Linked DNA regions of Homo sapiens. The protein of the gene in region 2 interacts with the protein of the main gene of each other region in a pairwise test. Each region holds a gene or a part of one and is shown on either strand. Other genes may lie near its edges. The genes, in order: SCN5A and EMC9.

What was found.
Region 1: the proteins of EMC9 (region 2) and SCN5A interact in binary tests that used the Homo sapiens proteins (3 or more experiments, as listed by UniProt).

Annotation. Positions count from the first base shown.
Region 1 is NC_000003.12:38,600,878-38,604,687, reverse strand, and holds part of SCN5A (sodium channel protein type 5 subunit alpha), read left to right. Parts: intron 1-604; coding exon 605-976; intron 977-3,810. UniProt on the Homo sapiens protein: Pore-forming subunit of Nav1.5, a voltage-gated sodium (Nav) channel that directly mediates the depolarizing phase of action potentials in excitable membranes.
Region 2 is NC_000014.9:24,138,585-24,143,110, forward strand, and holds EMC9 (ER membrane protein complex subunit 9), read right to left. Parts: upstream 3,008-4,526; 5' UTR 2,854-3,007; exon of another isoform or gene 2,733-2,853; 5' UTR 2,721-2,732; coding exon 2,523-2,720; intron 2,382-2,522; coding exon 2,305-2,381; exon of another isoform or gene 1,206-2,304; coding exon of another isoform or gene 1,109-1,205; exon of another isoform or gene 1,084-1,108; coding exon of another isoform or gene 1,031-1,083; coding exon 961-1,030; intron 871-960; coding exon 776-870; intron 613-775; coding exon 426-612; 3' UTR 381-425; downstream 1-380. Other genes in the region: PSME1 (proteasome activator complex subunit 1), read left to right, coding at 1-60. UniProt on the Homo sapiens protein: Part of the endoplasmic reticulum membrane protein complex (EMC) that enables the energy-independent insertion into endoplasmic reticulum membranes of newly synthesized membrane proteins.

The DNA.
Region 1 (3,810 bases), on a different chromosome or scaffold from region 2:
GCATGAAAATCCCATCATGCTAGGCCCCTGTACAGTCACAGCCCCCATGGTTGCTCATCTCTGCGCTTCCTGTTTCCCATGGCCTTCCTTAGAGTAGGGGAGCTCTGGGCAGAGGGACAGGGTAGTTTTGGGTGTTGTGATATCCCCAACCTGAGGCCAGTATCCCGGCACTGGAGCCGGGGCTGGGGGACGAGACCCCATGGTATGGGTTGGTAGGAGTTCAAGGACATGCCCATAAGAGTGAGGGTCCATTCCGAGTGCCCCAGGTCCTCCTCAGGCCGGGCCTGTCTGCAACACCAGGAGCCTTCCTGCCTCCTTCTCCCTTGCCCAGCCTGAGCTCTAACTCCAAGCCCAGTTAAGTTTCAGGCTCCCAGCTCCAGAGACATAGATTTGAGGGGAGTAGACATCCCAGAAGATACAGGATTATCTCTAACCCCACATCCCCTCTTCCAAATACCCCCGGCCCAACCCACCTGGTTCCTGTGTGGCCAAAAAAGCCCTCAATGCTCTGAGAAGTTTAGCTGAGGCCAGTGGCACAAAAGACAGGCTGGGAGCACATGAAGAGCACATGTCATGGTCGTGTCCCCTCTCCTCATGCCCTTAGAATCATCTCAGCCTCACCCGTGGCCTCAGCAGGACTTCTATGAAGCCACGTTCCAGCCGCGGGAGCATTTTCACCTTTCGCAGGCGAGACCTGGGTTCTGAAGCAGATTTTGCAGATGATGAAAACAGCACAGCGGGGGAGAGCGAGAGCCACCACACATCACTGCTGGTGCCCTGGCCCCTGCGCCGGACCAGTGCCCAGGGACAGCCCAGTCCCGGAACCTCGGCTCCTGGCCACGCCCTCCATGGCAAAAAGAACAGCACTGTGGACTGCAATGGGGTGGTCTCATTACTGGGGGCAGGCGACCCAGAGGCCACATCCCCAGGAAGCCACCTCCTCCGCCCTGTGATGCTAGAGCACCCGCCAGACACGGTGAGCCAGCCCCGAGATGCAGGCACCACAGCAGGTCTGGTCTCCCAAACTGATCACCAGTGCCAAGTCCAAAAATACACGTCAAATATTTGTTGAGCACCTACTGTGTGCTGGGCTCTAGGTGCATAAACTTACAAAAAAAAAACTGGGCCCTCATAGAGCATCCATGCTAATGGGGACAGACAGACAAAACTCAAAAGAAAGCCAGGTGCGATGGCTCACGCCTGTAATCCCAGCACTTTGGGAGGCCGAGGTGGGGAGATCACCTGAGGTCAGGAGTTCAAGTCCAGCCTGGCCAACATGGTGAAACCCCATCTCTACTAAAAATACAAAAATTAGCCGGGCATGGAGGCGCGTGCCTGTAATCCCAGCTACTTGGGAGGCTGAGACAGGAGAATCACTTGAACTCAGGAGGCAGAGGTTGCAGTGAGCTGAGATCATGCCATTGCATTTCAGCCTGGGCAACAGAGTGAGACTCCATCTCAAAAAAAAAAAAAAAAAATCAAAAAGAAAAAATGTCTATATTGTGTGTAATGGTGATAAAGAGGGATGATAGTTAACTATGTCACAACTAGTAAAGCCTTCATTACCATCATCTGGGGAAGCCTGTTCCAGACACAAGGAACAGCAAATGTGAAGGCCCTGAGGCAGAACTCTGCCTAGCCTGTTGGAGGAGATGCCACGAGGTCAGTGTGGCTGGAACAGAGGGAGCGACGGGGAGAGAAGTTGCAGTGACTGTTACAAAGGTGATAGGAAGGGACTGGCCAGATTGTGAAAGGCCAATCAGAGCTTTGGTCACTTAGTCAGTTCTATGACAGACTGATGGCTGCCCAATCAGCCATCAGGTGTCCTTGCTGACCCCAGGCCCCCAACACAGTGACCAGAGCAGCCCACCCAGGAAAAAGCTGAACATCTGGCTCAACCCCCAAGGCCTGCAGAGCGCACTTGGAGAGGAAGGTAGAACAGATGGGAGGCTTGACCAGGAAGGTGGAGGATGGCCTGAAGATGCAGGGCTCCCAGCCACGTGGCTTATTTTGTGCCACTCAGACTCTCGCTCAATCTGTGGGACTTGGTACAGGTTAATTAATCTCTTTGTGCCTCAATTTCCTCATCTGTAAAGTGAAAATTATACGCCAGCAAGTTGTGGTGAGGACTGAAAGAGTGCAACTAGGTCCAGTGTTGAGACCAATACTTGCCTGGTCTTAGAGCCATTAGTATTATCTGTTATTGGTATTAGTAAGCAGGAAGGAGTGAGGATCCTGGGGTACACTGCAGAATGCCCAGGGCCCCACACTCCTCTGGAGCACAGGGTGAAGGGAGGAAACTGGGCACCCCTGGGGGCAGACCACAGCTTTAGGTAGAGCTGGGGAGGCCCTGGCCCATCTGAAGGGTGGGGTGTCTAGTTTCCAGGAACACTGAACCAGGCAGGTTCAGCCCTGGAGCCTCAGCCTCATGGAATCGGGTCAGCAGCTGGGAGCGCTAATAGAATTTCCTAATCTCATTAAGGAGAAAATCATCTCATTGTACTGCACATGTCGGGAGGAATCCAAGTTCAAGCACTTCATTACCAGGAATTCTGACTTCACCCATTCTCACTTCTGTGGGGCCCATTTGTAACCTTAAAGGGATTAGCAGGCCAAGACAGGGTCATTTGCAAAGTTAAAGGAATTAGCAAACCAAGATGGAGACATTTGAAGAGTCAAAGAGATTAGCAGGCTGCAGGCCCCTGGGAATGCCTTCTGTGCTTCCACTGGGTCCCCAGTGAGACGTTTCTGCCCAGTTCTAGTCTGAAAACAAAGCACAGGGTTGGGCACACTGTGGGTGCCTAATCAACAAGGATGGGAAGGAAGGGCCAGCCCAGCAGACAGCTCACGTTCAGTTTATCCAGATTGGGAGGTAGGGGCTGAAGACTTACTTTGCCCCTTGCTTGTATGAGACTGCCTGGTTCCAAAAGTCCAGATGGAGGTGGGAGAAGCACACTGAATATCCATTCCTTTTCTCCCCCTACATGTTAAATCTTCATCCTCATTTCCTGTGGCCACCTAGCAAGTTAGGAACAGAGCTGGAACTCTAACCCAAGCCTTCCGATTGATTCCCAAGAATTTATCCATCCAACCAATATCTATCTAGTGCCAGCCTGCCATGTGGCGTGCCAGGCAGTGTTGAGACTCCAGGGTTATAGCAGTGAACAAAGAAGGCAAGATCACTGTCTCTTGGAGTTTATACCGTAGTTAGGAAGACAGTAAACTGATCAATATTTTCAGGTAGCAATAAGTCATGTGATAGAAAGCTGCTAAGGGGAGGGATGAGGATGAGGGCTATTAGAATACTCAGGAAAGGCCTTCCCAAGAAGGTAACATTAAAATTGACAGGCAAATGATTTTAGGGAGCCAGCCCTAAAGATGCAGAGGAACAGCGTTCAGGCAGAGGGAATAGCAAGTGCAAAGCCCCTGAGGAGGACACATCCAAGGGATGAGAGGGACTAACAGGGCCAGGTGTGGTGAAACATTAAAATGAATTTCATGAGTTAGGATTTGGACTGTGCAGGGCCTTCTAGACCATAGATAAGTTTGGATATACTGTGTGAGTAAGATGGGGAGGAGTAGGGTGGGAGGAGTTGTTGAACAGAGGAGTGACATTATCTGATTTACTTTTTAAAGGAATCCCTTTCTACTATGCAGAGAATACAGGGATGAGAAGAAGAAAAGAAGCCAGTTAGGAGGCTGTTGCAGTGGTTTTGGGAAAGAGAAGATGACTGCCTGGACTAGGATGGTGTATTAGTCAGCTATTATAATAATAATGCTGTGTAACAAACTACCCCAGAAGTCAATCTC
Region 2 (4,526 bases):
GGTGGGCAGAGGCAGCTTTCCCAGGCCACCCACTCCCTGACCCTGCAGGCTAGGGGTTAAGGGTGACAAAGCTCAGCTTCTCCACAAGGCTAGAAATGGGGCACAGAGCCACTGGAGGCCTCTGACTGACCTCTACTCCCTGGCCCTGTAGGCTGTGTTATATGACATCATCCTGAAGAACTTCGAGAAGCTCAAGAAGCCCAGGGGAGAAACAAAGGGAATGATCTATTGAGAGCCCTCTCTCCCATTCTGTGATGAGTACAGCAGAGACCTTCCTGCTTTTTACTGGGGACTCCAGATTTTCCCCAAACTTGCTTCTGTTGAGATTTTTCCCTCACCTTGCCTCTCAGGCACAATAAATATAGTTATACCACTGCCCATCAGCCCAAGTCTCTTTATTGGAACCGGGCCCCGCTGGCCCTGGCTCAGGCATTTCCATTTCCATTAGTGGGACCAACCCACTGGGTGATTTGAGTGTTGAGCCGCTGGTTGGTCCAGTCCTGCCGGATGTCATCAAGGTGGCAGTCAAAGTCCACAAGGTGCTGGTGGGCCCGATCTTCCAGTAGAGCTCCCACCATCTGCCGTGACTCTTCCCAGTCCCTCCACATCACTCTGAAATAGTAACCCCCATGGAGGTCAAACAGCAAGTAGTGGGTCCAGACACAGACTTAACAGAGATTGGGTCTAGAGAAAGACCCTTGGGGCAGGGCCAAGGACAGAGGAGACCCAGGAGCCTTGGGCTTCTAAGAAGAGGTAGAGGGAGTGGGGTACTCACAAGTTCTTATCCTTAGGGACCCAGCGGAGACCTTGGTTCTCCAGGACGATGACCGGGGGCACACGAGGCTGAGGCACCAGTTTCTGATTATCCAACTGAGTGGACAAAGATGGGCAAGTGAGAGTTTCAAGGGTCCCCCCACCCTACTTGCTTTTCACCTCCCCACCCAGAAACCCAAGCCTCACCATAATAAGTACTGCATCAGGGAAGAATTCTGCAATTCGCCCAGCAATTTTCAAGGCCAGGGGCCCAGGGCTGTGTAGAGGGAAGATCAGAGGAGTGAGGAGCCAACTGTGGGCAAAACCCATCCATTTGAGCTGGGCCTCCCAGGTCTCATAGGTGTGGGCGCAGCTGTGGCCTTTCCCTGTAGGTGGCCTGCGGGGATCGGGCCTGCTGGATGCTTGATGCACGACTGCTTGATGCTTGAGTGCTGTGGGAGACAGGTGCTCAGATATTGCTGGTGAGAGTGGAAACCAAAGGTGGTCTTTTTGGAAGGTAATTTGGCATAACCATCCAAATTGAAACTGTATACATACTATACATATGCTGACCCAGAAATTCTACTTATAAAGAATTTATGGTAATCATAGGACAGTGTCTGTAATAAAACACTGGAAACAACCTCAATGTTTAAAGTATTAAATAAATTAGAGTACATTCATATTCAGACTATATAGCTGTTACGGTAGATCTTGGTGTGGAAATGGGATGATGTCAAGTATTTATTAAGTGAGGGAGAAACGCAAATTACAAAACAGTACCTCTAATTGCTCCATGTATATGATTAATATATATATATATATATATATGTCTTTTCCTATATGTATATATATAAGGAAACTGCCTTATTTTTGAAGTTGCTGGTTGGGATTTCTCTGTTCTTTCAGCCCCTGGGGGACACCTCAGTTAAAGCAAGATCAGTCTGTTGGCCGAGAGTGGTGGCTCACGCCTGTAATCCCAGCACTTTGGGAGTCCGAGGCGCGTGGATCACCTGAGGTCAAGTTCTAGACCAGCCTGGCCAACATGGCGAAACCCCATCTCTACTAAAAATAAAAAATAATAATAAATTAAAAAAATAAAAAAAATTAGCCGGGCATGGTGGCGCTCATCTGTGATCCCAGCTACTCGGGAGGCTGAGGCAGGAGAATCGCTTGAATCTAGGAGGTGGAAGTTCCAGTGAGCCGAGATTGCGCCACTGCACTCCAGCCTGGGAGACAGAGGGAGACTCCGTCTCAAAAAAAAAAAAAAAATCAGTCTGTTGATACACAGTTGTCCTCCCCGCCCCAACGGCACTCCAGGGCAGGGCTCTGTCCTATTCATCTTTATATTCCCTCACTCCAGTACCCAGCATAGTGCCTGGTGTAAAGCCCCTGCTCCTAAGCGTTTGATGAAGGAAAGATAAAAGGAACGACCTTGGTTCATCTTGTGCGCCCCCGCCCCGCCCACCGCCCCACGCATCCTCGCCCTCTATTCCTCCAATCCCCAACCCGCCATAATCCTTTCCTTCTTCCTCTGGCTACGCCACTCACCTCTGATCGTTCACAGCTGCATTGGCATGGTAGTAACCAGCCACCACCAGACCGGCCTGTGCTCCCCACACATCCACCTGTCGTAGGAAAGGGGCCATCAGTAATTAAATTGTGCCGCTGGCTTTGTGGATGCGCACTGCTGCCAAGGGACCGGGGATGAACTTGGGCTGGGGTGTTGGGTGGGTTCGCGGTGGGGGATGGGCATCCAACGGAGGCACCTGGTTGAGGGCGACCTCCAACATGACGGACAGGGCCAGGTGGCTGTGGAAGAGGGGCACACAGTCGGTGAGGCACAGGCATTCTCCAGACCGCGGCGCTGGCGCCAAAAACAGCCCGTTGACTGCGGCGTGTGGGTACCGGGCAGCATGCAGGCACATCTTCACGTAGGCCAGGGCCGAGATCTCCACCTCCCCCATGGCGAGCGAGGCCTGGACGGGAAGCAGCAAGCCGGATTAGTACCGGATTAGGCGAGCCGGTGCCTAGCTCGCGTCCGTGAAGCTCCCTCCAGCGCTTCGGCACGCTCTTTGACCCTTCCCCGTGCCCTCTCACTTCGGTTCGGCGACAACGCTAACTCGACTCGCAGGTAGCCCGCCGGCTCCCGGCGCCCTGGGTCCCGGAGTCCGCCCCCGGCCCAGTCCAGGAGGAGGTCCCGATTGCATCCGAGCCCCGCCTTCCCGCGCCCCTAGCTGGCGGCCGCGACTCTGCGCCTGCCTGGGAGACAGACCAAACTGCAGCTCCCTGCAGAACTGGCTCCTGGAGTCCCGCCCACGTGGTGCTCCTTGATAGGGCTAAAGGCTTTCAATTTGTCCAATCAGCGGCCGCGCCCCAACGTTGCCCCGCCTTTGTCTCCAGCGGACTGGAAAGAACCCACCATTGTGAAGCACAGAAAATTGCCCGCACTCTTATTGGCTAGGTTCCCCGACTTCCGCTCTCGGTTGGTGGTTGGCTTTGCCTGTTACCTGTGTTGCCCACTACCACTCGCTCCGCCGAGCCCCAAGGATGGATCGCTATCCCGTAGCCGGGTGTTCCGGAGCGCTGCGGGCAAAGCAGACCGCCTTGCGCCTATTATGGGTTGAGTGGCTCTGTACTCTAGATCGGCTCTGTCACTTACTAATGGGCCGTGTTGCCTTCGCGACTGCAGGTTTTCTTGCCCTTGGTTTATCTTTTGCCCGTGTTCCTTTAAGGATTTAATGAGATATGTATGGGGGCAGGCTTCCAGCCAGTCTAGTGCTTCGCAGCACATTCTTATCTCATATTTTATGACAGGATAAGGCCCTGAATTAAAGAACAATCCCATGGAGTTTACAGCAAGATCACAGCAAAGGAACCCTTGTCTCTATCACCAGCCCAGGGCTGAATCTTGAAAAGCAGAGATAAAGACAGTGATTGGCTGAAGGGGATATGGGGGAGGACAGTAAGAAAAACTTACAGATTCATCCTTCCCATAATGTCCTGCGATGTATTTCCTTCACCACAGTGCCTTGGAAGCATTATTTTTTCCCCTCCTAGCCCTTAAGGAGGGAGTCCAGGCCCGGCGCGGTGGCTCACGCCTTGTAATCCCAGCACTTTGGGAGGCCGAGGTGGGTGGATCGCCTGAGGTCAGGAGTTCGAGACCAGCCTGGCCAACATGGCGAAACCCCGTCTCTATTAAAAATACAAAAAAATTAGCCAGGTGTGGTGGCACATGCCTGTAATTCCAGCTACTCGGGAGGCTGAGGCAGGAGAATTGCTTGAACCCGGGAGACGGAGGTAGCAGTAAGCTGAGATCGTGCCATTGCACTCCAGCCTGGGCAACAGAGCAAGACTCCATCTCAAAAAAAAAAAAAAAAGGGTGGGGGGAGTCCAATCATTCATCCGTAGTTCTCCATAGTTCTCCCAGTGAAACCTTATTCTCCTTCTAGGCTTTTCCTGAACTGATGAGGATTCTTTCTTTCTTCATTCCTGATGTTGACCACAGAACTTTCCCCTTGTGTATCCAAAGCCTGATTATTCCCATAAGGGCTCTGTGCAAATGCCATCTCTTCCAATAATTCCTGAGACCTCTGGATGAAAATAATACTGTTACATTCCAAAATACAGGTTATCTGCATGGCTGCCATGGCATGTAACAATCCCCACCCTAGGCACTCAGGGTGAAGGACTTGGACTATAAACCCAATGGAGAAGATAGCCCTTCAACCTCTGTGACTTTTCTAAAGCTACTTTCCCCCCTTTTTGCCTTA